4 linked regions of the Homo sapiens genome follow. The protein of the gene in region 2 purifies or fractionates together with the protein of the main gene of each other region. This does not show direct contact. Each region holds a gene or a part of one and is shown on either strand. Other genes may lie near its edges.

Region 1 (6,840 bases), on a different chromosome or scaffold from region 2:
AACGTGCTGTAATGATATTTGTCTTGCAACATCAAAAGCAGCAGATACTGAATAGAATTTGCTTCAATCATAAATACTGAGACTGAAATATGCACGTATAAATCAATGAACTGAAAGCTCTCTATACATAGAAGCACATATGAAGTGCAAAACAGTATCAAAAGTGAGATCTCTGGTATTTCAGTACTCCCATTCATCAGATTTCAGGTCGAGATAGCTGAGAATATTCTGCGCAAGCCTCACAGCTTGTTTCCTGGCAGCCTTACACTTCTCTTCTCCCTGCGGATCAACAGCATCCAGGGCTAGCAGCTGCTTGGTGAGCAGCTCTTCCAGCCGGATGTAGTTCTTATCGGTTCGATTTCCATCAAATGAAAGAACTTCTCCCTGGATCTCAGACAAGTTTCCAAGGACGTTCCAGACGGCTTTATGGGATGGGTGCTCCTCACAAGCAAACAGCTTTCTTTTCTCAAGGGCCTCCTTCAAGTCAATATATGTGATCAGAGTTTGCACCTCGATCACTGCTCTTCTCCTGGCTTCCCGGATGCAGGGGTTTTTTTCAAGACTTACCTCATCCAACTGTCCAATTAAACCCTGCAATTCTGTTTTGGAGCTCAGGTACAATTCAGAAGGGTTTTGTGCTTGGAGAAGTTCATTTTTTATTTCTCTCATTCTCTTGAGGACCTTTTCTATTTTTAAAATGGAATGATTCTGTCTCAGGTCAAATGCTTTAGTTGTGTCTGCTTCCTCTTCCAAATCCAGATATTTCAATAATTTGTTGATATCTTCTACTACCTCCCTCCGATAATTTCTGATTTCTGTCCGGCCGCACACATCTAGAGCATCCAGGTCAGCGATCAGCCCCGAGAGCACACAGGATAAGTGCCTGCAGGTCTCATTGTTGTTCACACCCATCAGAAGTGCAATCAGGACCCCTCGGGCCTTGTTCACCTCACACATCACGAAGTTGATTTTGGCAACGGAAGGATGTGCATCCTCGGAAAGCGGCAGGGAAGGCTGCTTTTTCATGCAGTCTTCGATTATCTCTTGCACCGCACAGATTTTGGTTAAAGTGTGATACCTTGCTTTCCGCAAGGAGATTTTTCCTCCAGTTTTAACATGTGTCAGCCTCAGAATGATATCTTGGATGCCTTCTTCAAACTCATCAGTTACGCAGTTGCCTCCATTATAAAATGGCACAATTTTCTCTCTCACGAGGGACTGGGCTTCCTCAAAAATGTTCTGTATTTCAATCCGGTGTGGGTGGTTTGCATTCTGCTCCAACTCTTTGAGAAGACGTTCTGTCTCCTGTGCTGCCCGCTTCCTAGCTTGCTGAATATCTCCTTTTCCTTCAGTATCTACAGAGTCTATTTCAAAAAGCTGTTTTGTTAGAATCCTCTCCAGTTTCTTGTAATTCTTGTCATCTGACAGACCACTGAAGCCGATAACTTGCTGTTCTACACTTTTTACTTCCTTTTGGATTTCCTGAAGCCTACTAATAGAAGGATGTTGGTTTCCCATATCCATACTTTTGTTGTGTTCAGTTTCACAAGCACTAAAAGACGACAAGAATGATAACTTACTACAGCACAAGGCTTCTGCAGAACACTAATGGTATATTAAGTCATTCTAAAATTCTCATTTTAAAAAGGTATACTTCTGAGCAGTCATCCCACCTCAGCCTCCCCAGTAGCTGGGTCTACAGTCGTACACCACTACGCCCAGCTAATGTTATTTTTAGTAGAGACAGGTCTCACTATATTGCCCAGGCTGGTCTCAGACGATCCGCCCGCCTCCGCCTCCCAAAGTGCTGGGATTAAGGTGTGAGTCACCGTACGCGACACAAACTATTTGGAACCAGCAGGGCACCTTTATGAAAGGTGAAACAGTAGCTCTTGTAACCTTCCGAACACTAACAGTACCCCGCCCCGCCACACAGCTATGCCTAGTTTCCAGAAACTCTAAGCAAAAGAAAGAACCAGAACAAAAACCAGTGGCTCTCAGACATCCCCAAGGTCCCCGCTTCTTCGTTTCTCTCCATCCCTTTGTGCACTTCCCCTCCCCACCCTTTTAGCTCCTCACACATCTTCCCTCACAGAAGTCTCCCTGAAGAGATTAAAACCCCACAGGTAAAGAAGAGCGACCGGGACAGCGCTGAAGGGCACCACCTTGGGCTTTCGAGGCCCAACACCTCCTCAGCCCCCAACATGCTCCACTCTCTCAAAAAAAAACAACCCGCGAAAACGTGGTAACTATGAATAATTCATTCACTCGCCTCCCACTGGGAGTCCACAATGGCCTAATGCACGTTTCAAGCTCTTGGTTTCTATCAAACGGCTCGCTCAAGGTGGGTAACCAATGGAAACGCATAATCTATCCCCGGCGGATGTCCTGGAGGCCACGGAGGGAAGGCGGCCCGAGCTGCTTCCTCCCCGCCTCGCCCTTCCCTCTTGGCCCTTTACCCAAAAGAAGTCTGAATTGGATGCGGTCTTGGCGTCCCGTGGCTGAGGTGGCGAGGTGGAAGATCAGCCCTTTACGGGGTGCGGCACCGGAGCTGGGCCCCCAGCTGCATGCCTCGCACCCCTCCCGACTAGGTCTGAGCGGGGCAGCCGGTGAAGGGGCCGCTACTGGCTGCAGCAGCCGCTCCGGGCGTCTTGGCCCGGGTGCCAGGGCGCGCCTGCAGGACGTGACCTCACAATGGGCGCGCGAGGGGAGCTCGGCCCGGCCGGGGGAAGCCGGGGGAGGAGGGGAACCGAGGCCCGGCCGGAGACACCAGAGACCAGGCCCGGCCAGCCCCGGTCGCTTCCGACCCCAGGGGCGGGGACAGCGCCGAGACCGACTCTGCCCTGCCTGATCCGACAGGCCGCACGGGGCTGGGCGCTGGCGAAGGGGTGGCCCAGCGGGGAGCCCCGCGCGGAGGTGGTGCCCCACTCGTCCCCCCGAGAGAGGGAAAAGGCTACAAGCCGCGCTTCGCTCACCTGTCCCGCCCGCGCCATCGCGCGATGCGTCGCCGACGCTTCCACGACTTCCGCAGCTCCGGCAGTCGCCCGGGCCCGGCAGCCCCGCCCCTGGCCGAACACCCCTAAACCCGGGGACACCTCCTCCGGCGTCCGCGCCTAGCCGCCGGCAGCGCCACGCCCACCGCCAGCGGCGCAGCGAGGCAGCCTGGAGTGACCGCGACCAAGGAGCGGCCGCCCGGGTCAGCCCGCGCCGCCCGCCGCCCCCTCACCCCGTCGCACCGCTGGGAAAGCGCACGGTCGGCCGCGCCGCCGCGCTTCCTCGGGCTTCGCGACCCTGCCGTAAAGCGGCCCCTCGCGCCGTCGCAATGCTGCCGTGCGCCGCGGGAGCCAGGGGGCGTGGGGCCATGGTGGTCTTGCGGGCGGGGAAGAAGACCTTTCTCCCCCCTCTCTGCCGCGCCTTCGCCTGCCGCGGCTGTCAACTCGCTCCGGAGCGCGGCGCCGAGCGCAGGGATACGGCGCCCAGCGGGGTAAGCAGGGGCCTGGGGACATTGGGCCGGGAGGGGTGACCGGAAGGGAAGACAAACCCGGGCCTCGGGGCCACTCCCTGTTCTGCACAGCCGCCTCAGGCCTTTGTCCAGGTGCTCTCGCGTCCTATCCCGAACAGTCCCGCAGCCCCGAGGCTCCCGCATCAACGCCCTCAGTCGGATGGGACTGAGGGTGCCGCCGCCACCACGCCGGGGACTGTTGACAGCCAGAACCTTTAAGCGTAACAGAGTCACCTGGCAAGTTTGTACCTACCTTATTTGTTCCCGAGAATGATTATTTTTTATTTTTAAAGAGCTCTTGGCTTACCGTGCGTTTTTTTTCGTTGTGTGTGTGTGTGTTTTGGCTTTGTTACAATTATTAGTGCTTTTCTTCAAGCGGCGAGCACTTTATCATCGTACTTTTGTAGCACTTCACGTTGAATAGTTGTTATTTGCAAACTATGTGTGGGTATATGCATGTTACTGGCCAAAGATCCGCAAAGAATGTCTGTAGCAAGAATGTCTGTGGCAAGCAATTTTTATAAGTGGTACTTTTGGGAGGGATGTTTTGTTTAAGGGAGGCCTAGGCCTTGATTCCGTCTGTCAGATGAAAATGTTGACTAACGGTGTGGAATGGGCTGGAGATAAAATATTCAAGCAAAGCATGCAAATACCAAACAGGCTAATGAAGGAGGCTGGAAAACTTGGTTTAAACAATAATTAAAGAAGTATTAAAAAAGTGTTAATTAAAAATTGGACGGGCTCCGTGGCTCACGCTTGTAATCCCAGCACTTTGGGAGGCCGAGGCAAGCGGATCACGAAATCAAGAGGTGAGACCATCCTGCCCAACATGGTGAAACGTCTCTGCTAAAAATACAGAAATTAGCTGGGCATAGTGGCGCGCGCCTGTAGACCCAGCTACTCGGGAGGATGAGGCAGGAAAATCGCTTGAACCCGGGAGACGGAGGTTGCTGTGAGTCGAGATCGCGCCACTGCACTCCAGCCTGGCGACAGAGGGAGACTTCATCTCAAAAAAAAAAAAGCTAATTAAAAATTGCAAATGTACTTGCTTGTACATTTTCATTTCTGTTGGGCTGTGGCTGTTAGTACACTTTCATAATTGTAGCTTTGAAGGTCTATCTAGTTTACAATTTAAACAAGGAGTTACCAGGGCAACTTGCCAACCAGACACCCAAGTGGCTAGCTCAGTTCTGTGTTACAGTGACCAAGTCCTTGCCTTCTATCCCTAGAACATAGAAACCCACCCAGCATCTCTATCTTTGGGCAGAAAGATAGAGCAGGTGTCTGAAAATGCTCTAAGAGAGCAAACGGGAAATCAACCAAGACATTTCCCGGGCGGGGGGGATTTTCCCTAGCTTATTTTGTGAACTTGTGCTGGAAAGAAACAACAGCACCCAAATAAGGATTTCTCTATTGTCATATACACTTCTTTTTTTTTTTTTTTTTTTTTTTTTTGAGTTGGAGTCTCCCTCTGTCGCCCAGGTGGGAGTACAGTGGCGTGATCTCAGCTCACTGCAACCTCTGCCTCCCGGGCTCAAGCGATTCTCGTGCCTCAGCCTTCCGAGTAGCTGGGACTACAGGGGCCCACCACCATGCCCGGCTAATTTTTTTGTATTTTTAGTAGAGACAGGGTTTCACCTGTTGGCCAGGCTGGTTTCAAACTCCTGACCTCAAGTGATGCGCCTGCCTGGGCCTCCCAAAGTGCTAGGATTACAAGTGTGAGCCACCACTCTCAGCCTTAGACTTCTTGTTAAAGTAAAATAAATCTTACCATGGGTCTGTTCTCAAGATGAGAGACCTCTCTGCCTTGTTCGTTTTTTCTTTTTTCGAGATGGAGTTTTTGCTCTGTTGCCCAGGCTGGAGTGCAATGGCGCAGTCTCGGCTCACTGCAACCTTTGCCTACTGGGTTCAAGCAATTCTCCTGCCGCAGCCTCCTGAGTATAGCTGGGATCACAGGCGCATGCTGCCACGCCTGGTTAATTTTTTTTTCTTTTTTTAGTAGAGATGGGGTTTCACTATGCTGGCCAGGCAGGTCTCGAACTCCTGACTTCAGGTGATCCACCCGCCTTGGCCTCCCAAAGTGCTGAGATTATAAGTGTGAGCCACCATGCCCAGCCAGCACCAGCTTTTAATTGAAAAATATTATAGAACTTAAGAGTCAGGCACCATTCTTCCTTCCAAATCCATCTTTAAAACTCAGCTTTTCAGAAATATAACTGCTTTTGGTAAAGAAAAAAAAATTAAGACTTTTAAATTCTGTTCCCTAGCCACTTCATGCCTGCTTATGTCTTACCTATGTAGTTTGCATCATTGGTTCCTAAACTTGTTTGCACGTAAGAATTAGTCTGACTCTTTTAGTTCTTTTTTTTTCTTTAATCCGGAAGTTCCTGAACCAGAATAGGTTCAGAGATACTCCCTTTTAGTTCTTTTTAATCCATAGGTTCTGCCTCCATCACCTCCCCACCTTTTTTTTTAATTTTTTTTTTTTTTTGAGATGGAGTCTTGCTCTGTCACCCAGGCTGGAGTGCAGTGGCGTGATCTCAGCTCACTGCAACCTCCACCGCCCGGGTTCAAGCAATTCTCCTGCCTCAGCCTCCTGAGTAGCTGGGATTACAGGTGCCTACCACCATGCCCGGCTAATTTTTGTATTTTTTGTAGAGACGGGTTTCACCATGTTGGCCAGGGTGGTCTTGAACTCCTGACCTCAGGTGATCTGCTCACCTCAGCCTCCCAAAGTGCTGGGATTACAGGTATGAGCCACTGTGCCTGGCCCAAAGTCACTTTTAGCTTCAAAAATGAGCTGTAGGGTATGCCTTCTTTTCCTGTTTCCGTGGATTGTTTACTAAGGTTTGAATTTTTCTGTGACTGGTAGAACCTACAAGTCATTTGAACCTGAGTTTTCATAAGAACAAGCCATTTTAACCCCATCTTCTTTTTGGTTAGAGTTTAACCCCATCTTCTTTCTGGTTAGAGTTACTAAACTGGTAAATAAGAGTGATCCGGCCAGGCATGGTGGCTCACACCTTGCCAGCACTTTGGGAGACTGAGGCAGGCAGATCACCTGAGGTCAGGAGTTCAAGACCAGCCCGGCCAACATGGTGAAATCCTGTCTCTACAAAAATACAAAAATTAGCCGGGCATGATGGTGGTACCTGTAATCCCAGCTAGTTGGGAGGCTGAGGCGGGAGAATCGCTTGAACCCAGGAGGCAGAGGTTGCAGTGAGCCGAGATCGCGCCATTGCACTCCAGCCTGGGCGATGGACCAAGACTCATTCTCAAAAAGAAAAAAAAGAGTGAGCCATTGCATATTGATTTAAACAAGACATCTGATAAAGTCT
Region 2 (7,025 bases):
TTGGCTATTTTGGGTAGGTCCCCTGCTGTGCAGAAGAGTTAAACATGGCAAGCATAAATGTTTATGCTTAGAAAGGCCTTCCTGTAAGGTTGACTCTTGGGTGGCCTCTAGAAACCTAGGTTTCTGATAACAGTGGCTCACTATGCCTGAACTGTTAATACAAACAATATGCTTTATGCAGAACACCTGTTCTCCTGCTGGTAGTCTGACATTTTGGTACAGGCTAGGCAGAGTGTGCCTACATTCTGTGCAGACGGTGCCCCAATAAAAATCCTGGGCACTGAGTTTCTAATGAACTTTTTTATGAAACGCTGTTGAGTTTTGTCAAATTTTGTTCTTTGCATCTATTCAGATGATCGTGTGTTTTGTATTCTACTAATATGGTGTATGACATTGACTTTCATATGTTGAACCAATCTTGCATTCCTGGAATTAATCCCACTTAGTCATGGTGTTTAATACTTTGCTAGTACTTCATTGAGAATTTTTGTGTCTATGTTTGTGAGATATTGGTTAGTAGTTTTCTTTTCTTGTGATGTCTTTGGTTTTGGTGCCAGGGTAATACTAGCCTCATACAATATGTTGGGAAATGGTTCCTCTCAGTTTTTTGCAAGAGTTTGTGAAAGGCTGGTATTAATTCCTCTTTGTTTGATAAAATTCACTAGATTATCTTTTAAAGATGTTTAAAATGAAATATCTTTTACATTTAGCCACTTACTTTTCTCCCTGTTATTTTGTGTAGATCTGTATTTCCATTTGTATCACGTTCCTTTTGTATGCAGAGCTTACTTATTCTATTTATTTAAGAGATAGGGTCTCACTCTGTCATACAGGCTGGAGTGCAGTGTGCAGTCACCACTCACTGCAGCCTCAAACTCCTGGGCTTAAGCAATCCTCCCACCTCAGCCTGCCAAGTAGTTGGGAGTACAGGTGTGCCACTGCACTCAGCTAACTAAAAAAGATTTTTTTTAGATACAGGCTAGCTATGTTGCCAACACACCTAGCTAATTTTAATTTTTTTTTTTTTTTTTTTTTTTTTTTTAAGATACAGGCTATGTTGCTCAGGCTGGTGTTGAAGTGGCCTCAAGCAATCCTCCTGCCTTAGCCTCTCAAATAGCTGGAGCAGCCACTGTCTGTAAGCATCTGAAGAGCTTACTCTAATATTTCTCATAATGCAGATTTGTTTGTGATGAATTCCCTCAGCTTTCATTTGTCTGAAAAGGTTTTCAGCATTTTTAGGATATCATAGCATTGACTTGCCGTTTCTGACAAAATGTTGCTATAATTCTTAACTTTGTTCCTCAGTATGTGATGTGTCCTTTTGTGCATAATGCTTTTAAGATTTTCTCTTCTGGGGCCTGGTGTGGTGGCTCATGCCTGTAATCCCAGCACTTTGGGAGGCCAAGGTAGGTGTATCACTTGAGGTCAGGAGTTCGAGACCAGCCCGGCCAACCTGGTGAAACCCTGTCTCTACTAAAAATACAAAAAAAGGTTGGACATGGTGGTGTGTGTCTGTAATCCCAGCTACTCAGGAGCCTGAGGCAGGAGAATCGCTTGAACCTGGGAGTTGCAGGTTGCAGTGAGCCGAGATTGAGCCACTGCACGCCAAGCCTGGGTGACAGAGCAAGGGTCTCAAAAAAAAATTTTTTTTTCTCTTCTTCATTCTTTTTCAGTAATTTGATCATGATCTGCCTTGGCGTGACTTTCTTTAGGTTTAGGTTTATTCTCCCTCTGGTTCATTGACTTTCTTGGATTTGTGGGTTCATAGTTTCATCGAATTTGGGAAAATTTTCACCTATTATTTCTTTACATAAAGTTTCTGTTATCCCCCTTTCTCCTTTCCTTCTGGACTCCACGTGCACATACACTAGACTGGTATATTTCTACAGAGAACTGATTCTTTTTCATTTTTTTCATTTCATTTTGAATTATTTATATTGCTATGTTTTCATGTCTATTGATCCTTTCTTCTAGTGTCTACCCTGCTATTAGTGGATTTTTCATTTCATATATTTTATTTTTCCTCTTTATAAATTCCATTCAGGTTATTTTTTGTATCTTTCATTCCACTCTGCATCATGTTCATGTTTTCCTTTTCATCTTTGAGTGTATTTGTAATAGCCATTTTAAGATTTTTGCTTCTTTCCTGAACTGTTATTTCTGGGCCCTTTCCTATTGACTAATTTTTCTCCTGGTTATGGGTCACACTTTCCTGCTTCTTTGTATGTCCAGCAAAATTTTATTGGATGCTTGATATTTTGAATTTTGCACAGGTAAGTGTTGGATTGTTTTCTTTAGAGTGTTTTGCCTTTTCAGGAACTTTTGGATGGTTGATCAAGTAGCCTTTGTTCTAGAATTAATTTAGCCGTACTTCTAATGTGTGGTCATTCTAGGTTCCCTACTAAATGCCCCTTATAGTTGATAATGCCTCTACACTCTAGCTAGAGGGAATGTGAATTCTTTCTCATCATGAGCTCAAGGAAATGTTCATCCTACAGATCCCTACTATTCTTTCATGGTAAGTTATTCTTGCCTGGCCTCATGGGGTTTCATGTTGTATATATTCAGATTATTCAACCAAAGAATCAAGGAGGGGACTTCTATGCAAGTTATTGTTTTGTTTTTATTTGCATACCTCTGTTCCTTCCAGGACTCTGCCCTGCAAATTCTAGCTGCTTTTGCCTCCTTGAGCCATGGTCTCTGGCTCAACTCAGTGGGATCATTAGACTCATGTCTTACAGCCTGGTGACACTTCCATGCAATAAGCCGGAGTGGTCTGTTCAGTGACCACAGTACTGCAACACCTGCCAACCAGTGTCTGAAAATAGTGGCTCATGTATTTTGTCCAGTTTCTAGTTGCTTACAGTGGGAGGGTATCCTGGACTGTATTTCCCCTGCATGGTCAGCAGCGCACCTCCATTGAGTCTGCATGTGTTTAATCTGATGGCTCTGTTGGCTGGCGTCTGTTATAGGTTATAAGTATAGCTGCCTGTGCTTCCACCACGAGCACCTGGGGTGTCTTGTGGCATGATTGAGCTAGCTCTGAAGCTGACTCCCTCTTCTCACTCCCTGCCTTTTCTCCCTTACCTTTTGCAGAAAAGGTGTGAGCGGTACTGGGCCCAGGAGCAGGAGCCACTGCAGACTGGGCTTTTCTGCATCACTCTGGTGAGCTGTGGGAGTTTTCAAGGAAGATTCCCAGGGTGGAAAGGCTTTGGGTTGGGCCTAAAAGGTTGAATGATTTAACCCACAGTCCACTCATACTGCAGGAAACCCTCTGGTGTTAGCCTGCAAATAGTTAGAACTTACTATAGGGATAGCCTTTGCATTTTTATTTTGGCTACAATCAGTTAATCTCTGTCATGTAAATGTGCCTGGTTAGGTTGTTGAAATTCTTACTTCTCTTACCATTTCAAAAGAGCTTGGGGAACTCTCTCAAGTCATACATACAGTTAGTACTTAATAAATGCAATAAAAGTTTCATTTTAGAACAAAAGACATCTCTTTTCATTGCAAAAGGGCTTGTGTTTTTATAATAGTTCCTCTTTTGCTCCTGTGTCAAATGTTTCCTTAATGAAAGCTTTGGGGAAAGTTTGGGCTATATGAATTTTTAAAATGTTTTCTGTATTTGATTTTTTAATCAGGAATGCTTTGCTTTCTATAAATGTCTTCTGGTACCTATGATCTTTGTTCTCCTCCCTCTTCTTACTTGCCCCACCCCCCTTACTCAGATAAAGGAGAAGTGGCTGAATGAGGACATCATGCTCAGGACCCTCAAGGTCACATTCCAGAAGGTACTGTGACAGGGGAGGAGGAGGTAAAGGGGCTCCTGAAAGGGGAGAGGTTTCCTCTCCTGTAAAAATGGGCATCATACTAGTACCCACTTCCTCAGTTATTGTCTGGTAGACATAAATGGAAGATGCCTAGAAGTGGGCCTGGTGTATAGTAGATGGCCAATTAATGCTTTTTTCTTTTTTTTCCTAAGTCTTTTGCTCATCTTTTTCTGTGTTTCAGGAGTCCCGTTCTGTGTACCAGCTACAGTATATGTCCTGGCCAGACCGTGGGGTCCCCAGCAGTCCTGACCACATGCTCGCCATGGTGGAGGAAGCCCGTCGCCTCCAGGGATCTGGCCCTGAACCCCTCTGTGTCCACTGCAGGTTTTGGAAATGGGCTTCAGGAGGGTCTGGTGAGGCAGAGGGGACAGAGCATGGAGGGGAGTACAGGGCATGGGGCTAGTCTTGTAGTCTGAGTGCCTATTTTGAGAACCCTTGCTCACCCTCCATGGACTGTAATTGTGAGCACTTGTTCAGCACAGACTCAGCTGGGGAATAAGCACACAGCTCTTGCTCAACAAAATGTAAGTGATTAAAAAGGTTTTCCTTGTTCAGATATAATCTGAAGATTCTGGGAATCAAGAGGCTCTGCAGGGGATCCATCAGGACCCTCACCCCCATCCCCAAATGCCCCATCTAAAAGGGGTTGTGGTCAGGACCTGACCAGGCACACTCTGATTCTCTTGTCAGTGCGGGTTGTGGGCGAACAGGCGTCCTGTGCACCGTGGATTATGTGAGGCAGCTGCTCCTGACCCAGGTACGATACAGGCATCCTGTGTGTGCAGTGTGCTGCCCATGACCACGTGTCCTGCTCAAGTGCCTTGTCTGTCTGCCCCAGATGATCCCACCTGACTTCAGTCTCTTTGATGTGGTCCTTAAGATGAGGAAGCAGCGGCCTGCGGCCGTGCAGACAGAGGTGAACCCTGGGTCTCCTAATCTTCAGGGACAGTGGCCCACTGCTGTCATTTGCCCCTGCCTTCCCTTCTTGATGGTCCCTCACCCCAACAGGAGCAGTACAGGTTCCTGTACCACACGGTGGCTCAGATGTTCTGCTCCACACTCCAGAATGCCAGCCCCCACTACCAGAACATCAAAGAGGTACAGAGGCTCCTTTCCCACTCTCCTGTCCACCATCAGCACCCTCAGAGACCAGGACCCCGAGCAGGGTCCAGCCCCCGGGACTACTGGGAGCAGGCACTGACTATGACATCCACCTGTGCCCTCCTCCAGGCATCCTTATCAGGCTCTCCCATCTTAAGCTTTCTCCCAGAGCCCCTTGAGAGGCCTGGCCAGCTTCCTCCCTCAGGAGCCTCCCCTCCTGTTTTTCTTCAGAATTGTGCCCCACTCTACGACGATGCCCTCTTCCTCCGGACTCCCCAGGCACTTCTCGCCATACCCCGCCCACCAGGAGGGGTCCTCAGGTACCCGGCTCCATCCCCGGATTCTTCCCTGCCCAATTTCTCAGGCTAACCCCTTCTTCATCCTTGGAACACCAGTCCGTTCCTTGTTCACTTCGCCAAGTGTTCGCTGGCCCTTTCTTCGAATTGAGCTCTGGGAACCCACCCCAAGATGATTCAATTATCCCAAGATGATTCATTTACCCCTTGCCTCTGCCTCTAAGGCTTGCCCTGCCTTCTGAGTTAGGCCTTTCCTGGATCCTCTAATCAAACCTTAATTCAGGTGGCTCACCCCTGTAATCCCAGCACTTCGGGAGGCCAAGGAGGGCGGATCACTTGAGCCCAGCTGGAGACCAGCCTGGTTAACATGGTGAAACCCTGTCTCTACTAAAAATACAAAAATTAGCCAGGCGTGCTGGTGAGAGCCTGTAATCCCAGCTACTCCGGAGGCTGAGGCAGGAGAGTCGCTTGAGCCCGGGAGGTGGAGGTTGCAGTAAGCCGAGATCGCACCACGGCAGTCCAGCCTGGGCGACAGAGCGAGATCCTGTCTCAAAAAAACAACAAAAAAAATTCAGCAAATAATTCTAGACGCCGCCTTCTTGTCAGGCCGCACGTTGGGTGCTGCGGACATGGGATTGAGCCGCCTTCGCAGCGGAGACTTAAGGCCCTTGTCCTTGCGGCCATCCCTTCCTGTCTTCTATGCCACTTCCGCATTCTTTTGTTCAGTAGACGTTGACACAGAAATGACCACCCCTCAAACCAACACTCTGCCCCAAATTACCCTCCAGGCTGACCCCGTTCCTCCTTCATCCCCCTAACTTGCAGGGCGCTAGGGACACAGAAGCGAGGCCTCCAACCCAAGGAGCCCTCCCTCCCATCTAGCGCACCGCCTCGGCGGGAAGGAAGCCCGTGGTTTGCGCGCTGAGCAGCCTCCCCACTCCCGCCCTGCCCAGCGCCGCCGTTTCACTTCCTCCCGGCCCTCCCTGCCTGCAGGAGCATCTCTGTGCCCGGGTCCCCGGGCCACGCCATGGCTGACACCTACGCGGTGGTGCAGAAGCGCGGGGCTCCAGCGGGCGCCGGGAGTGGGACGCAGACGGGGACGGGGACGGGGACGGGGGCGCGCAGCGCGGAGGAGGCGCCGCTCTACAGCAAGGTGACGCCGCGCGCCCAGCGACCCGGGGCGCACGCGGAGGACGCGAGGGGGACGCTGCCTGGCCGCGGTGAGTCGAGGCTTGCTCCTTCTCAGGGCATCATCCTGCTGTGATCCGCAGGGCGGAACCATCCTGCAGTGGTCCGTCAGGCCCTGGCGGCCGCGGGGACCCCAGCCGCTAGCCTGGCCACGCCCCGACGCTGATGTCCAGGCGTCCCTGGCCACGCCCCGGAAGCGCCCCCTGGCGGTCGCAGTCGCGGTCCAGGGGCAGGGTTCCTGGCAATACTTGTCTTGGCCGCGCCCAAAGGCTGGAGGCCACGTCCGGGGTGTGTGCCTTCTCCCGCCCGGCGCCCTCGGCTCTCCCCTTCGGGCCTCCGGGGAAGCGTCCCCGCTAGGGGTGGGGTCTTGGGACTCCCTGGGGCTTCCGGAGCTGACCCGTGGGGGGTCTGCTGCCCTCAGTTCCTGCTGACCAAAGTCCTGCCGGATCTGGCGCCTACGAGGACGTGGCGGGTGGAGCTCAGACCGGTGGGCTAGGTAAGTCAGGTAGAGCCTGGGTTGCTGGGACTTTGCTGCTTTGAGTGAACCCAGGAGTCTGGGGTTGATGGGGCATGGAGCTTAGTCCTGTGGATGTGGCTGCAGTGAACCAGG
Region 3 (7,025 bases), on a different chromosome or scaffold from region 2:
AATGAGAAAAAATTCCAGTTTTTGGGATGATCAGACACCAGTGTCCTTCAGATACGGGCATGCACGGGTGACAGTGGGACCCGTTTTGGAAGGGTAGATGAAAGCAGTGTTCTCTCACCCCTGGGGATTTCCAGGCTTCTCACTTGGGTGTGAGGTCCAAATCGTCCCTGAACCTCCTGTAGATACTTATTTTTCCTGGGCCTTCCTGATTCCCAAGGTTCTTGGTGTAGACCAGCTTCCTAGTTGCTGTTTCAGCAACCCTGTTCCTGTAGTGGGCAGGGCTTCTCTCTGCCTGGGATTGACTAGGGAAAGTCTTGGGGCTGTCTGAACTGGCTCATTGCCCTGCTGTCAACACAAGGCTGTCACTCTCATCCAAACCTTTTACCAGATTGGAATCTTGTCATTCTGGAGCCTTAGCAGAGTTTGAACTGATGTTGCCTCTGGCTTTGCTCAATGGTTTTTCTCTATACAGTCATCTCTTGGTATCTGTAGGGGATTGGTTCTAGGACTCCCATGCAGGTACCAAAATTCATGGACATTCAAGTCCTTTCTTTTCTTTTTTCTTTTTCAATACAGAGATTGGGTCTTGCTATGTTGGCCAGGCTGGTTTCAAACTCCTTGCCTCAAGCTATCCTCTTGCCTTGGCCTCCCAAAGTGCTGGGATAAGAGGTGTAAGCCGGCCGGGCATGGTGGCTCACACCTGTAATCCCAGCACTTTGGGAGGCTGAGACGGGTGGATCACGAGGTCAGGAGATCGAGACCATCTCGGCTAACACAGTGAAACCCCGTCTCTACTAAAAATACAAAAAAATTACCCGGGCATGGTGGTGGGCGCCTGTAGTCCCAGCTACTCAGGAGGCTGAGGCAGGAGAATGCTGTGAACTTGGGAGGTGGAGCTTGCAGTGAGCTGAGATCGTGCCATTGCACTCCAGCCTGGGCGACAGAGCGAGAATCTGTCTCAAAAAAAGAGGTGTAAGCCACTATGCCTGTCCTCAGATTCTTTCTATAAAATGGTGTAGTATTTACATATAACCTACACACATCTTCCTGTATACTTTAAGTATTCTCCAGATTGCTTATAATACCTAATATAATGTTAATGCTATGTAAATAGTTGTTTACACTGTATTTTTTATTTGTATTTTTTAATTGGTATATTTTTATTTTTTAATTTTTGGAATATTTTTCATCTGTGGTTGGTTGAATCCATGGATGCAGATATGGAGAACTGACTGTACAGTGCTCTAGATAAATATAGGAGGCTGCTTTAAAAAAAAAATACAGAAAGAATACAGGTTAACACCACAGAGTCTCCCTGCTGACCCCATAGTGTATTTTGTACAATGTTTAGATTGTTGCTGTAATTTTTAAATACTCTCTCGGATTTTATGAAAAGAAAAACTTCAGACTAGTTAAATTTAGCAGAGTTTATCTGAGCAAAGAAACTATTCATGAATCAGGCAGCACCCTGAACCAGTAAAGGTTCAGAGAGCTCCACAAGGCAAAAGTGGGCAGGCAATACTTACAGAAAAAAGAGGTGATACAGAAATAGCCTGATTGGTTACACCTGGGTGGTTGCCTTATTTGGACTTGACTGGGCAGTCTGCAGCCTGGGATTGGCTGAAAGCTCCCCTGTTATGATTGGCAGAGACCCAGCTACTTGTTACAAGAATATACTCTTAGTTAGGTTACGGTTTGTTTACACACTAAGTTAGGTTGTGGCTTGCTATTTATGGAGGCAGCTTTAGGCCAACATTTTTTTTTTTTTTTTTTGAGACAGAGTCTCGCCCTGTTGCCCAGGCTGGAGTCCAGTGGTGCGATCTCGGGTCACTGCAAGCTCTGCCTCCTGGGTTCACACCATTCTCCTGCCTCAGCCTCCTGAGTAGCTGGGACTACAGGGGCCCGCCACCACGCCCGGCTAATTTTTTTGTATTTTTAGTAGAGACGGGGTTTCACCGTGTTAGCCAGGATGGTCTCGATCTCCTGATCTCGTGATCCGCCCGCCTCGGCCTCCCAAAGTGCTGGGATTACAGGAGTGAGCCACTGCGCCCAGCCTAGGTCGAATTTAATTTGACAATCTGGTCCCCAGAAACACACCAGGAGGGCTGTTTCCTTTTGTCTTGCCTAGTGGCAAAAGGGAAGATAGAGTCATGAACAATTACCTGCTCTCCCATACATTCTTTGTAGAGCAGCCGGAGGGAGCTAGCTTTAAAATAATCGTCAAAAACCTCTTTTTTTTTTTTTTTTTGAGATGGAGTTTCACTTTTGTTGCCCAGGCTGGAGTGCAGTTGCGAGATCTCGGCTCACTGCAACCTCTGCCTCCCGGGTTCAAGCGATTCTTCTGCCTCAGCCTCCCGAGTAGCTGGGATTACAGGCATGCGCCACCACGCCCGGCTAATTTTTTGTATTTTTAGTAGAGACGGGGGTTTCACCAGGTTGGGCAGGCTGGTCTGGAACTCCTGACCTCAGGTGATTCGCCCGCCTGGGCAAAGTGCTGGGATTACAGGCGTGAGCCACCGCACCCGGCCTGTTCCACCCTTTTAAAGAAACTGTTCTGCTGTGACTGGCTGGTGGTCTTGCATGAGGAGAATATCATTAAGGACGGGCTCTGGCTTCTTTAGAAGCCCTATACTCAAGAAGGGGTGCAGCACAAAGCCCACACACGTGGGGCTCACCTTCTGGTGAGAGACCTTGTGACCAACGGAGAAAACACAGCAACTTGTTGAAGAGAGGAACTTCTTCTCCATTCCCCACGTAATCTCAGGCAGTTCAACTCAGCAAATGTCTATGTGAAGTCTGAGTGGCCAGCCTTGTGGTAGCTGCTGTGGGCTCACAGAGAGACAGACACACAACATCTCACCTCTAAGAGATTATTAGCTACTCAAGAAGATGAGTCTCAACATGAAATTTTAAAACAGTAGTTTTAATTTAATTAAATTATTTATTTTTGAGACAGGGTCTTGCTCTGTCACTCAGGCTAGAGTGCAGTGGTGCGATCACGGCTCACTGCAGCCTCAAACTCCTGGGCTCAAGCAATCCTCCCAAGTAGCTGGAACCGCAGGCACATGCCACCACGCCTGGTTAATTTTTGTATTTTTTGTAGAAACGCTGTTTCACCATATTGCCTAGGCTGGTCTCAAACTCCTGAGCTCAAGCAATCTGCCTGCCTTGGCCTCCCAAAATGCTGGGATTACAGGCATGAGCTACTGCACCTGGCCAATAGTTTTTAATATTAACATAAAATTAAGGTTATTAAAATATATATTATTAGTGATTTGGTACTTTCCCAACTTTTTTCCTCCATGCATAATTATAATCCTATAGTATCTGTACTATCTTGTATTCTACTGCTTTAATTAAAATATCGTAACTTTGGCTGGGCACAGTGGCTCATGCCTGTAATCCCAGCACTTTGGGAGGCCAAGGCGGGTGGATCACTTGAGATCAGGAGTTTGAGACCAGCCTGGCCAACATGGTGAAATCTCGTCTCTACTAAAGAAATACAAAAATTGGCCGGGCGCGGTGGCTTACGCCTGTAATCCCAGCACTTTCAGAGGCTGAGACAGGTGCATCACAAGGTCCGGAGTTCGAGACCAGCCTGGCCGATATGGTGAAACCCTGTCTCTACTAAAAATACAAAAATTAGCCGGGCGTGGTGGTGGGTGCCTGTAGTCCCAGCGACTCGGGAGGCTGAGGCAGGAGAATCACTTGAACCCGGGAGGCGGAGGTTGCAGTGAGCCAAGATCACACCACCATACTCCAGCCTGGGCAACAGAGTGAGACTCCGTCTCAAAACAAACAAACAACCGAAAACAAAAATTAGCCAGGCATGGTGGTGGGCACTTGTACTCAGCTACTTGGGAGGCTGAGACAGGAGAATCGTTTGAACCCAGGAGGCGGAGTTTGCAGTGAGCTGAGAGCATGCCACTGCACTCCAGCCTGGGCGACAGAGCCAGACTACATCTCAAAAAAAAAAAAAATTATAACTTATTTTATATATTGCTATCTACTTTCCCTAACAATTATTTAGAAAAGTTTTGTGAGTGATACAACTATTCTGTCACTGTTTGGCATTTATGTAATTTCTAGAGTTTTCTTTTCTTTTCTTTTCTTTTTTTTTTTTTTTTTTTTGAGACAGAGTTTCGTTCTTGTTGCCCATGCTGAAGTGCAATGGCACGACCTCGGCTCACTGTAACCTCCGCCTCCTGGGTTCAAGCAATTCTCCTGCCTCAGCCTCCCAAGTAGCTGGAATTACAGGCATGCACCACCATGCCTGGCTAATTTTGTATTTTTAGTAGAGATGAGGTTTTTCCATGTTGGTCAGGCTGGTCTTGAACCCCTGACCTCAGGTGATCTGCCTGTCTCAGCCTCCCAAAGTGCTGGGATTACAGGCATAAGCCACCGCACCCGGCCCAGTGTTTTCTATAATAAAGAATGTGGTGCATGTCATTCGTGTAAGGTATTTAAAATTGGGATTCTTTAAGTATCTATTTCTGGAAACTCAAGACAGAACTCATCATTGCCCAGCCATTTTACTATGTTTCTCTAATAAGTCACTCTTGCCCTTTCTGCAGTGATAATTTCATGCCTTTTCCACTCAAACCTACACATCCCTCCCACATTCTCACTGTGTTTTGGTGATCTTGCCTCTACTCCATTAAGAAACCAGACAGCAGGGCTGGGCGTGGTGGCTCATGCCTGTAATCCCAGCACTTTGGGAGGCCCAGGCGGGTGAATCACCTGAGGTCAGGAGTTGGAGACCAGGCTGGTCAACATGGTGAAACCCCGTCTTTACTTAAAAAAAAAAAAAAAAAAAAATTAGCCAGGTGTTGTGGTGGGTGCCTGTAGTCCCAGCTACTCGGGAGGCTGTGGCAGGAGAATCGCCTGGACTTGGGAGGGGGCGGTTGCAGTGAGCCAAGGTCACTCCGCTGCACTCCAGCCTGGGCAACAGAATGAGACTCTGTCTCAAAAAAAAAAAAAAAAAAAAAAAAAAGAAAGAAAAAGAAAGAAGAAAAAAAGAAAAGAAAAAAGAAACCAGAGCAGCTGGTGAAAGCTCACTTACCTTCTGTATAAATAGGATTCAGTTTGGCTGCAAGTAATAGAAAACCCCAAAACAACAGTGGCCTAGACAAGGAAGAGGTTTATTTCTCTCTCATCTACAAGCCCCTGATTGGTCATTCCAGGGCTGGCATGGCTGCCCTTGGGGTGAGGACCCACACTCCTGTCTGCTTACTCCAGTGGTGCCTGGTTCAATGCCTGGCACATGACAGATTCTCAGTAATACCTACTGAATGACTGAAAAAACCATTAACTAACAGAAGGACATTGAAAAACTTTTGATATGTAGAACCAGGATGATTTCCTAAAGAGTGGGCCTATTCTCAGTGTTCCCAATAGTATGTGCGGATGCTAGTTTCACTCTGTCAGTCATAGCTATTGTCTTTTTTTCTGCTCATTCAATAAGCAAAACTTGGTGCCTTATTCAACTTTCATTTGCGTTTTTATCACCAGGGAGAGTGCACATTTGGTTATTTTCTTGTAATTCCTCTTTTACAAATGGTTTTGTTTTCTTCCTCATGCTTTGCTTGTAAATTTATATGCATATTTTAAAATATATATTTTTGTATATATACACGTGTGTGTGTGTGTGTGTGTGTGTGTAATTCACATGTTCTAACATCCAGTATAGGCATGACACAGTGAGAGGCAGTCCTCAGGCCCTCAAGCTTTTGCACTGGACATTCCCGGGTTTGATTCCCAGTTTGGCTCCTTTCAAGCCAAAGAATGTGTGTGCCCGTGTTCAAATTATTCAGCTTTCCTCAGCTTTGCCTCCTCATCTGTAAAATGATATATGTATATGGATTTTGAAAACACTTTATACAGTCAAGTTTATTGATCTAAAGTTTTGTGATTTCTTCTATTACACTTCGAGGTTTTCTGTGGTCCAAGTTTTACTCAATATGTGTCTTATGATTGGGCGCTGTGGCTCATGCCTATAATCCTAGTACTTTGGGAGGCCGAGGTGGGACAATTGCTTGAGTCCAGGGGTTCAAGACCAGCCTGGGCAACATATTGAGACCCTGTCTCTACAAAAAAAATTTTAAAATTAGCAAGGCATGGTGGCCAGTACCTGCAGTCCCAGATAATCAGGAGGCTGAGGCAGAAGGATCACTTGAGTCCATGCGGTTGAAGCTGCAGCGAGCCGTGATTACACCACTGCACTGCAACCTGGATGACAGAGCAAGACGCTGTCTCACTAAAAATACTGTCTTTTGAGTATGAGGGCTTAAGTGTTCTGACATTTGCAGAAGTCAGAGACCTGTGTGGACCTGCAAAATGAGGAGGAGGTGGATTCCTGCCCTCAGGGTCCTACATTCTTCTTAAGGAAGCAAACAAAGATGTAGGACACTAATGGGAAACAGACTGACCTACTCTCCTTCAGGCTAAAAAGAGTGGTTTACCTGCCGGGATGGTGGCTCCTGCCTGTAATCCCAGCACTTTGGGAGGCCAAGGCAGGTGGATCACGAGGTCAGGAGATTGAGACCTTCCTGGCTAACACGGTGAAACCCCGTCTCTACTAAAAGTAGAAAAAAATTAGCCAGGTGTGGTGGCATGTGCCTGTAGTCCCAGCTACTCAGGAGGAGAATTGCTTGAACCTGGGAGGCAGAGGTTGCAGTGAGCCGAGACTGCACCACTGCACTCCAGCCTGGGTGACAGAGCGAGACTCCGTCTCCAAAAAAAAAAAAGTGGTTTACTGGGGCAAGTTTCTTTTTCTTTTTCTTTTTCTTTTTCTTTTTAGTAGAGATGGGGTTTCACCATGTTGGCCAGGCTGGTCTTGAACTCCTGACCTCACATGATCCACCCACCTCGGCCTCCTAAAGTGCTGGGATTACAGGCATGAGCCACCATGCCTAGCATACCAGGGCAAGATTCTTGGACAAGTCTGGCTGGGTGAGTGCGATAGGGTACCACTCCTTGAAGAGTGCTAAAATGGCACCAGGCATGCAACAAGATGGGGAAATCTT
Region 4 (7,025 bases), on a different chromosome or scaffold from region 2:
CAGCCTGGCCAATATGGTGAAACCCTGTCTCTATTAAAAATACAAAAATTAGCTGGATGTGGTGGCACGCGCCTGTAGTCCCGGCTACTTGGGAGGCTGAGGCAGGAGAATCGCTTGAACCCGGGAGGCGGACCTTGAAGTGAGCCGAGATTGCGCCACTGCACTCCAGACTGGGTAACAGCGAGACTCCGTCTCAAAAAAAAAAAATAAATAAATAAGCGGACATTGTGGTGCGCGCCTGTGGTCCCAGCTACGTGGGAGGCTGAGGCAGGACAATTGCTTGAACCTGGCTGGTCGAGGTTGCAGTGAGCCAAGATTGCGCCACTGCCCTCCAGCCTGAATGACAGCGAAACTGCATCTCCAAAAAAAAAAAGTTGGACAGATTTTGAATGTTCAGGCTTTTTTTTTTCAATAGGGGCCTTTCAAATCCCACAATGATACACTTCTTACATTTAACCCAACACAGGCGTACAGCCATGTAACACATTCAGCAAAACAGTATTTACTGTTATGTGCACTGTGTGCTGGTATTTTTTTGTCCCATTTGGTCTCTTAAAATGCTGGTCATGACCTACAAAATTGATTTCCTGACCCACTGTTGATCAGTACTCTGTTTGAAAAATGCTTTTCTAAAGCATAGGCAGGAACTTCACCAGCTGCCTCTTGACACCACTTGAGTTTTGTTAACTCTTCGTCTTCTGGCCTCCATCTTGGGCTCTAGGATTTTTTATCCCTTGTTTGCTTAATTTGGCAGGTTCCTTCTGCCCTTGCCTCTGTAAGGTCTCTGATTGATGGAAGTTCCTGATCTCTCTATTTGAGGATTCCAAAATCATTTCTCTCTTTTTTTTTTTTTTCCAAATAGAGTCTCACTCTGTCCTCCAGGTGAGAATGCAGTGGTGCAATCTCGGCTCACTGCAGCCTCCGACTCCCAGGTTCAGATGATTCTCCTGCCTCAGCCTGCTGAGTAGCTGGGACTACAGGCATGCACCACCACATCCGGGCAATTTATTTATTTATTTATTTTTTTGAGACTGAGTTTCGCTCTTGTTGCCCAGGCTGGAGTGCAATGACGCAATCTCAGCTTACTGCAACCTCCGCCTCCCAGGTTCTAGCAATTTTCCTGCCTCAGCCTCCCAAGTAGCTGGGATTACAGGCATGCACCACCACGCCCGGCTAATTTTTTTTGTATTTTTAGTAGAGACGGGGTTTCTCCATGTTGAGGCTGGTCTCGAACTCCTGACCTCAGGTGATCTGCCCACCTTGGCCTCCCAAAGTGCTGGGATTACAGGCGTGAGCCACTGCACCCGGCAGCAGCTAATTTTTGTATTTGTAGTAGAGACGGGGTTTCACCATGTTGGCCAGGCTGGTCTCGAACTCCTGACCTCAGTTAATCTACCCGCCTCAGCTTCCCAAAGTGCTGAGATTACAGCCTAAAATCATTTCTCTTGACAAAACTATTTCTTGCATCAATTTACTGGGTCGTGGGTGGATAATACATAGAATGAGTTAGTAACTTCGGTGACAACTCTATCTCACAGAACGTTTACCTCTTAAAAGTGTATTTTGGCCTGGTGTGGTGGTTCACCTTTGGGAGACTGAGGCAGGAGGGTTGCTTTAGGCCAAGAGTTTGAGACAAGCCTGGGCAATATGGTGAGACACCATTTCTACCACAAAAAGAAAAAAACATTTAGCCAGGCATGGTGACACACACTTGTAGTCCCAGCTACTTAAAAGGCTGAGTTGGCCGGGCGCAGTGGCTCATACCAGTAATCCCAGCACTTTGGGAGGCCAAGGCAGGCAGATCACCTGAGGCCAGGAGTTCAAGACCAGCCTGACCAACATGGAGAAACCCCGTCTCTACTAAAAATACAAAATTAGACGGATGTGGTAGTGCGTGTCTGTAATCCCAGCTACTCAGGAGGCTGAGGCAGGAGAATCGCTTGAACCTGGGAGGCAGAGGTTGTGGTGAGGCAAGATTGTGCTATTGCACTCCAGCCTGGGCAACCAGAGTGAAACTCTGTCTCAAAAAAAAAAAAAAAAAAGGGCTGAGTCAGGAGGATTGCTTGAGCCCAGGAGCTCAAGGTTACAGTCAGCTGTGATCATGCCACTGCACTCCAGGCTGGTAACAGAGTGAGATGCCATCTTTAAAAAAAAATAAATATGGCCAGGCGCGGTGGCTCACGCCTGTAATCCCAGCACTTTGGGAGGCTGAGATGGGTGGATTAAGAGGTCAGGAGTTCGAGACCAGCCTGGCCAACATGGTGAAACTCCATCTCTACTAAAAATACAAAAATTAGCTGGGCGTGGTGGCGGGTGACTGTAATCCCAGCTACTCAGGAGGCTGAGGCAGGAGAATCGCTTGAACCTAGGAGGCGGAGGTTGCCGTGAGGCAAGATTGTGCCACTACACTCCAGTCTGGGGACAGAGCAAGACTCTGTCTCAAAAAATAATAATAATAAATACAATGAGCTTCTCAAGGGGTTGCCTGCCCTCAGGTAGGCTGCTGTGGGGCACCTGACCTTTTGTGGGGCAGCTCAGTAAGGAGAAACCCTTTAGTGAGGACACTGTTCTGACAGGGCCAAGGCCTGCCTCACTTTTTTTTTTTTTTTAATGAAAAAGTAAAATTTAATGTGGAAAATGCAAACTTGGGGAGGGCAGAAAGATCACACACAAGGCTGTCACTTCACACTTGGAGGGTTGCACAGTGGCCCAACAGAGGCACACCTCACTTGCCAGACGGTGGGGCAGGTGGGCAGAGGTGCTCCTCTCTCCCCAGTCAGTTGGGTGGCCGGGCAGAGGCGCTCCTCACTTCCCAGTCGGTGGGGCGGCCAGGCAGAGCTGCCTCACTTTTTAAAACTGCTGTATCCCACCGGGCGCGGTGGCTCACACCTGTAATCCCAGCACTTTGGGAGGCCAAGGCGTGTGGATCACCTGAGGTCAGGAGTTTTAAGACCAGCCTGACCAATATGGTGAAACCCCGTCTCTACTAAAATTACAAAAATTAGCCAAGTGTGGGGGTGTGCGCCTGTAGTCCCAGCTACTTGGGAGGCTGAGGCAGGAGAATCGCTTGAACCTGGGAGGCGGAGGTTGCAGTGAGCCGAGATCGTGCCACTGCACTCCAGCCTGGGTGACAGAGTGAGACTCTGTCTCAAAAAACACAACAAAACAAAACCCCGCTGTATCCTTACTTCTTGCACTTTATATGTTTGAGAAGGGAGAGGTTTAAACCACAGTAGCATTTCTTCATCCTCCATCCCCTTTGTAATGTAATATTTAAGAATGGCAGGAATCAATTTGGGGAGCTAGCTTGACTGTTACCCATTAATGAACATTTATCTATCCTGTGGTGACATGTTGCCACACCAGGAAATGGAGACTGGTTCTTCCCTGATGGGAGGAGATGACAACTATGCCATAGGCAAGCATCTTGCCGCTCCCAAGAAAGAGAAGTCTCCGCTGCCATCCCACAGCCTTTGGGTCACTGGAGCATGTATCAGTGCCACTCCGCCCACCTTCTTCCTGTGAGGGGTGACTAGGGCTGTGCTCTGTTTGTCATTTGGATGCTTTGGAAATCTGTGGCAAATGAATTGACTTTTCCATGGAAGGAGCATGTGGCACATTCTGGAGTGGCTTCGTGAGCTCCATGTGGAGACCGGAAGAGTGGCAGAGCCCTCGTTCGTCACATGGGGGCCAGCGTGGAGTGCAGCCTGGGCTCTTTGCCCCTGCTTATTTTTTCTTTGCTGGCTCCTTAGGGAAGGTGTGAGAAATTAAATAAATGAACCGGTTTTCTCTCTTCTGATCTGTAAAGTCACCTATTTATTTGTTGGTAACTACATGAAAGAATGAGTGTTGTCTTTAAAGCTTGGGATTAAATGGGCACATCATAGAGAAGCTGTGTGTTCCTTTCCCCTCAGGTCAATGAGCTGAAGGAGAAAGGCAACAAGGCCCTGAGCGTGGGTAACATCGATGATGCCTTACAGTGCTACTCCGAAGCTATTAAGCTGGATCCCCACAACCACGTGCTGTACAGCAACCGTTCTGCTGCCTATGCCAAGAAAGGAGACTACCAGAAGGCTTATGAGGATGGCTGCAAGACTGTCGACCTAAAGCCTGACTGGGGCAAGGTCAGCTGTGGGCAGTGGAGGGAGAGAGGCCCTTCAGACCCTTCCAGAAATGCCTTTTGGTGGCCTGAGGTTTACCTGTCCTGATACACTGATAGTTACCTACCCACCTCCCTGTTTGAGTATCCTCCTCAGAAATGGCATTTTTCATCAAATCTAAGGTAGCCATTAGTTGTAATACAGGCTTTATTTTTGGTACTAAGAAGGAAGAGGCCAGGGCTGGGCGCGGTGACGCACGCCTGTGATCCCAACACTTTGGGAGGCTGAGGTGGGCGGATCACTTGAGGTCAGGAGTTCAAGACCAGCCTGGCCAACATGGTGAAACCCTGTCTGTACTAAAAATGCAAAAAAATTTAGCCAGGCATGGTGGCATGTGCTTGTAGTCCCATCTACTCAGGAGACTAAGGCAGGAGGATCACCTGAGCCTGGCAAGCGGAGGTTGCAGTGAGCTGAAATCGTGCCACTGCATCCAGCCCAGGTGACACGGCAAGACCCTGTCTCAAAAAAAAAGGAAGAGGCCCGGTACAGTGGCTCACGCCTATAATCCCAGCACTTTGGGAGGTTGAGGCAGGAGGATTACTGGAGCCCAAAGGTTTGGGACCAGCCTGGGTAACATAAGGAGTCCCTGTCTTTACCAAAAAAATAAGGGAAAAAGTGTTGCCAAAGAAACTGACCACAGTCGATCAGAGGTGAACAAGGCGGGGCGGATGTGCCTCTGCTATTTGGATGGATCCTTACAGTAGCAGCCTTGGCCTCGTAGCCTACTCCTCTCCTTTTTTTCTCTTTGGCCTTCATGTGAATACTCATTTTTCCCCCATAAAAGTAGAATTGTTCTTTTTTGAGTTCGTCTTCTAGATTTACCTCTGGGTGTTCTCTATTTTGTGTCTGTCTTTGGTGGTTTAAGGGCTATTCACGAAAAGCAGCAGCTCTAGAGTTCTTAAACCGCTTTGAAGAAGCCAAGCGAACCTATGAGGAGGGCTTAAAACACGAGGCAAATAACCCTCAACTGAAAGAGGGTTTACAGAATATGGAGGCCAGGTTGGCAGGTAGGTACCACGCACAGTTTTCTTTCTTATTATTAATGTGATTAATTTTGAGTCTTCACCCCTGAGAAATGTCAGTCTGGTAGGGTATGGGACACAGTAATTCTAGTGAACTCATTTCATAGTGATGTGCTTTCCTTTATTTGGACAGAGAGAAAATTCATGAACCCTTTCAACATGCCTAATCTGTATCAGAAGTTGGAGAGTGATCCCAGGACAAGGACACTACTCAGTGATCCTACCTACCGGGAGCTGATAGAGCAGCTACGAAACAAGCCTTCTGACCTGGGCACGTAAGTGGACGCCGCTCACTGAGGTTCTGGAAATCGGGGAATGTTATGCTTTCTTCCTGTAACCTCACAGCAGAGGGTTCCCTGGTCTAAACTGCAGAGTTTTTGCCTTTGCTTATTCTCTGCAGAGCAGTAGGTGGTGGTCGTTTATTTGTAATTATAGAAAGGGTCAGGGGAGCATATTTCACAGTAATCTAGAATGTTCTTTGTCATCTGTATACACCTCTCTCCTGCTCTTCTAGAACTCTGATCTAGCGTCAACCCCATCCTTTCCATCTACTTAGGCCCTACTTTCTCTGTTGGTATATCAGAGTGGAAACAGGGTTGAAGTTCATGTGTAAAGATGTGTCTAAATCTTGTACTGGTATTCATCTCTATCAATCCTCTGGCTCCTGAGATCAGCTACGGAAGTATACCTAAAACAACTCATTCCTCTGTGTATCTGCTAACCTTGAGGAATAAACTTGACCTCTGTGACTTCATTTTATTTTATTTTATTTTATTTTATTTTTTCAAGATGGAGTCTCGCTCTGTCCCCTAGGCTGGAGTGCAGTGGTGTGATCTCAGTTCGCTGCAACTTCCACCTCCTGGGTTCAAGCGATTCTCCTGCCTCAGCCTCCTGAGTAGCTGGGATTACAGGTGTACGCCACCACGCCCAGCTAATTTTTGTATGTTTAGTAGTAGCGGTGGGTTTCACCATGTTGGCTAGGCTGGTCTCAAACTCCTGACCTCAAGTGGTCTGCCCGCCTCGGCCTCCCAAAGTGCTGGGATTACAGGTGTGAGCCACCGTGCTCCGCTATCTGTGACTTCATTTTATTTGTTTTTGTTGACTCTATTTTAGATAGTGTTTTGACGGTTTGAGTATTTCTCAATTGTAACTCATGAGTGGTGCAAAATCTAGCCATCTTTTGATGGGTGAGGAGCTTCTAAACACAAGAATCTGACTTTAGTAGTAAGTGGGAGTTAAAAGACTAATTGTGGGGAGGAGTAATTACAATTTTTCTTTATTTTTTTAAATCAATACTAGGAAACTACAAGATCCCCGGATCATGACCACTCTCAGCGTCCTCCTTGGGGTCGATCTGGGCAGTATGGATGAGGAGGAAGAGATTGCAACACCTCCACCACCACCCCCTCCCAAAAAGGAGACCAAGCCAGAGCCAATGGAAGAAGATCTTCCAGAGAATAAGAAGCAGGTCTTGTTTTTTTCTCTCCTCACTGTCACCTATCTATAAACAACTAGAAATCTTTATGTTGAATGGGGACATCTGTTGACCTTGATTGACCATGATTATTATGGTTTTTTTAGAGACGGAGTCTTGCTGTGTTTCCCAGGTTGGTCTTGAACTTCTGGCCTCAAGCGATGCTCCTGCTTCAGCTAGGATTACAGTCACGAGCCACTGTGCCCACCTAAAACTATTTTGAGTGCTTTAGTATGCGCTAAGCTTATGGCTATTATTCATTAGAATGGCCAGCATGTTAAAAAATCAGCTTCAGGCCAGGCACGGTGGCTCATGCCTATAATCCCAGCACTTTTGGAGGCCAAGGTGGGCAGATCACCTGAGGTCAGG

The links.
Region 1: the proteins of PTPN18 (region 2) and BAG5 purify together in Homo sapiens (affinity purification with mass spectrometry; 2 studies listed by BioGRID and IntAct, with this or other methods). This does not show direct contact.
Region 3: the proteins of PTPN18 (region 2) and PSTPIP2 purify together in Homo sapiens (affinity purification with mass spectrometry; 4 studies listed by BioGRID and IntAct, with this or other methods). This does not show direct contact.
Region 4: the proteins of PTPN18 (region 2) and STIP1 purify together in Homo sapiens (affinity purification with mass spectrometry, with the first as the bait; 2 studies listed by BioGRID). This does not show direct contact.

What each region holds. Positions count from the first base shown.
Region 1 is NC_000014.9:103,559,641-103,566,480, forward strand, and holds the start of BAG5 (BAG family molecular chaperone regulator 5), read right to left. Parts: upstream 3,018-6,840; 5' UTR 2,976-3,017; intron 2,681-2,975; exon of another isoform or gene 2,273-2,680; intron 1,553-2,272; 5' UTR 1,525-1,552; coding exon 181-1,524; 3' UTR 1-180. Other genes in the region: COA8 (cytochrome c oxidase assembly factor 8), read left to right, coding at 3,362-3,484. UniProt on the Homo sapiens protein: Co-chaperone for HSP/HSP70 proteins. It functions as a nucleotide-exchange factor promoting the release of ADP from HSP70, thereby activating HSP70-mediated protein refolding.
Region 2 is NC_000002.12:130,366,037-130,373,061, forward strand, and holds part of PTPN18 (tyrosine-protein phosphatase non-receptor type 18), read left to right. Parts: intron 1-3,096; coding exon 3,097-3,165; intron 3,166-3,728; coding exon 3,729-3,791; intron 3,792-4,011; coding exon 4,012-4,154; intron 4,155-4,520; coding exon 4,521-4,587; intron 4,588-4,668; coding exon 4,669-4,746; intron 4,747-4,838; coding exon 4,839-4,928; intron 4,929-5,162; coding exon 5,163-5,251; intron 5,252-6,220; coding exon 6,221-6,447; intron 6,448-6,836; coding exon 6,837-6,911; intron 6,912-7,025. UniProt on the Homo sapiens protein: Differentially dephosphorylate autophosphorylated tyrosine kinases which are known to be overexpressed in tumor tissues.
Region 3 is NC_000018.10:46,062,251-46,069,275, reverse strand, and holds part of PSTPIP2 (proline-serine-threonine phosphatase-interacting protein 2), read left to right. Parts: intron 1-7,025. UniProt on the Homo sapiens protein: Binds to F-actin. May be involved in regulation of the actin cytoskeleton.
Region 4 is NC_000011.10:64,189,164-64,196,188, forward strand, and holds part of STIP1 (stress-induced-phosphoprotein 1), read left to right. Parts: intron 1-3,914; coding exon 3,915-4,124; intron 4,125-5,025; coding exon 5,026-5,167; intron 5,168-5,315; coding exon 5,316-5,457; intron 5,458-6,481; coding exon 6,482-6,650; intron 6,651-7,025. UniProt on the Homo sapiens protein: Acts as a co-chaperone for HSP90AA1. Mediates the association of the molecular chaperones HSPA8/HSC70 and HSP90.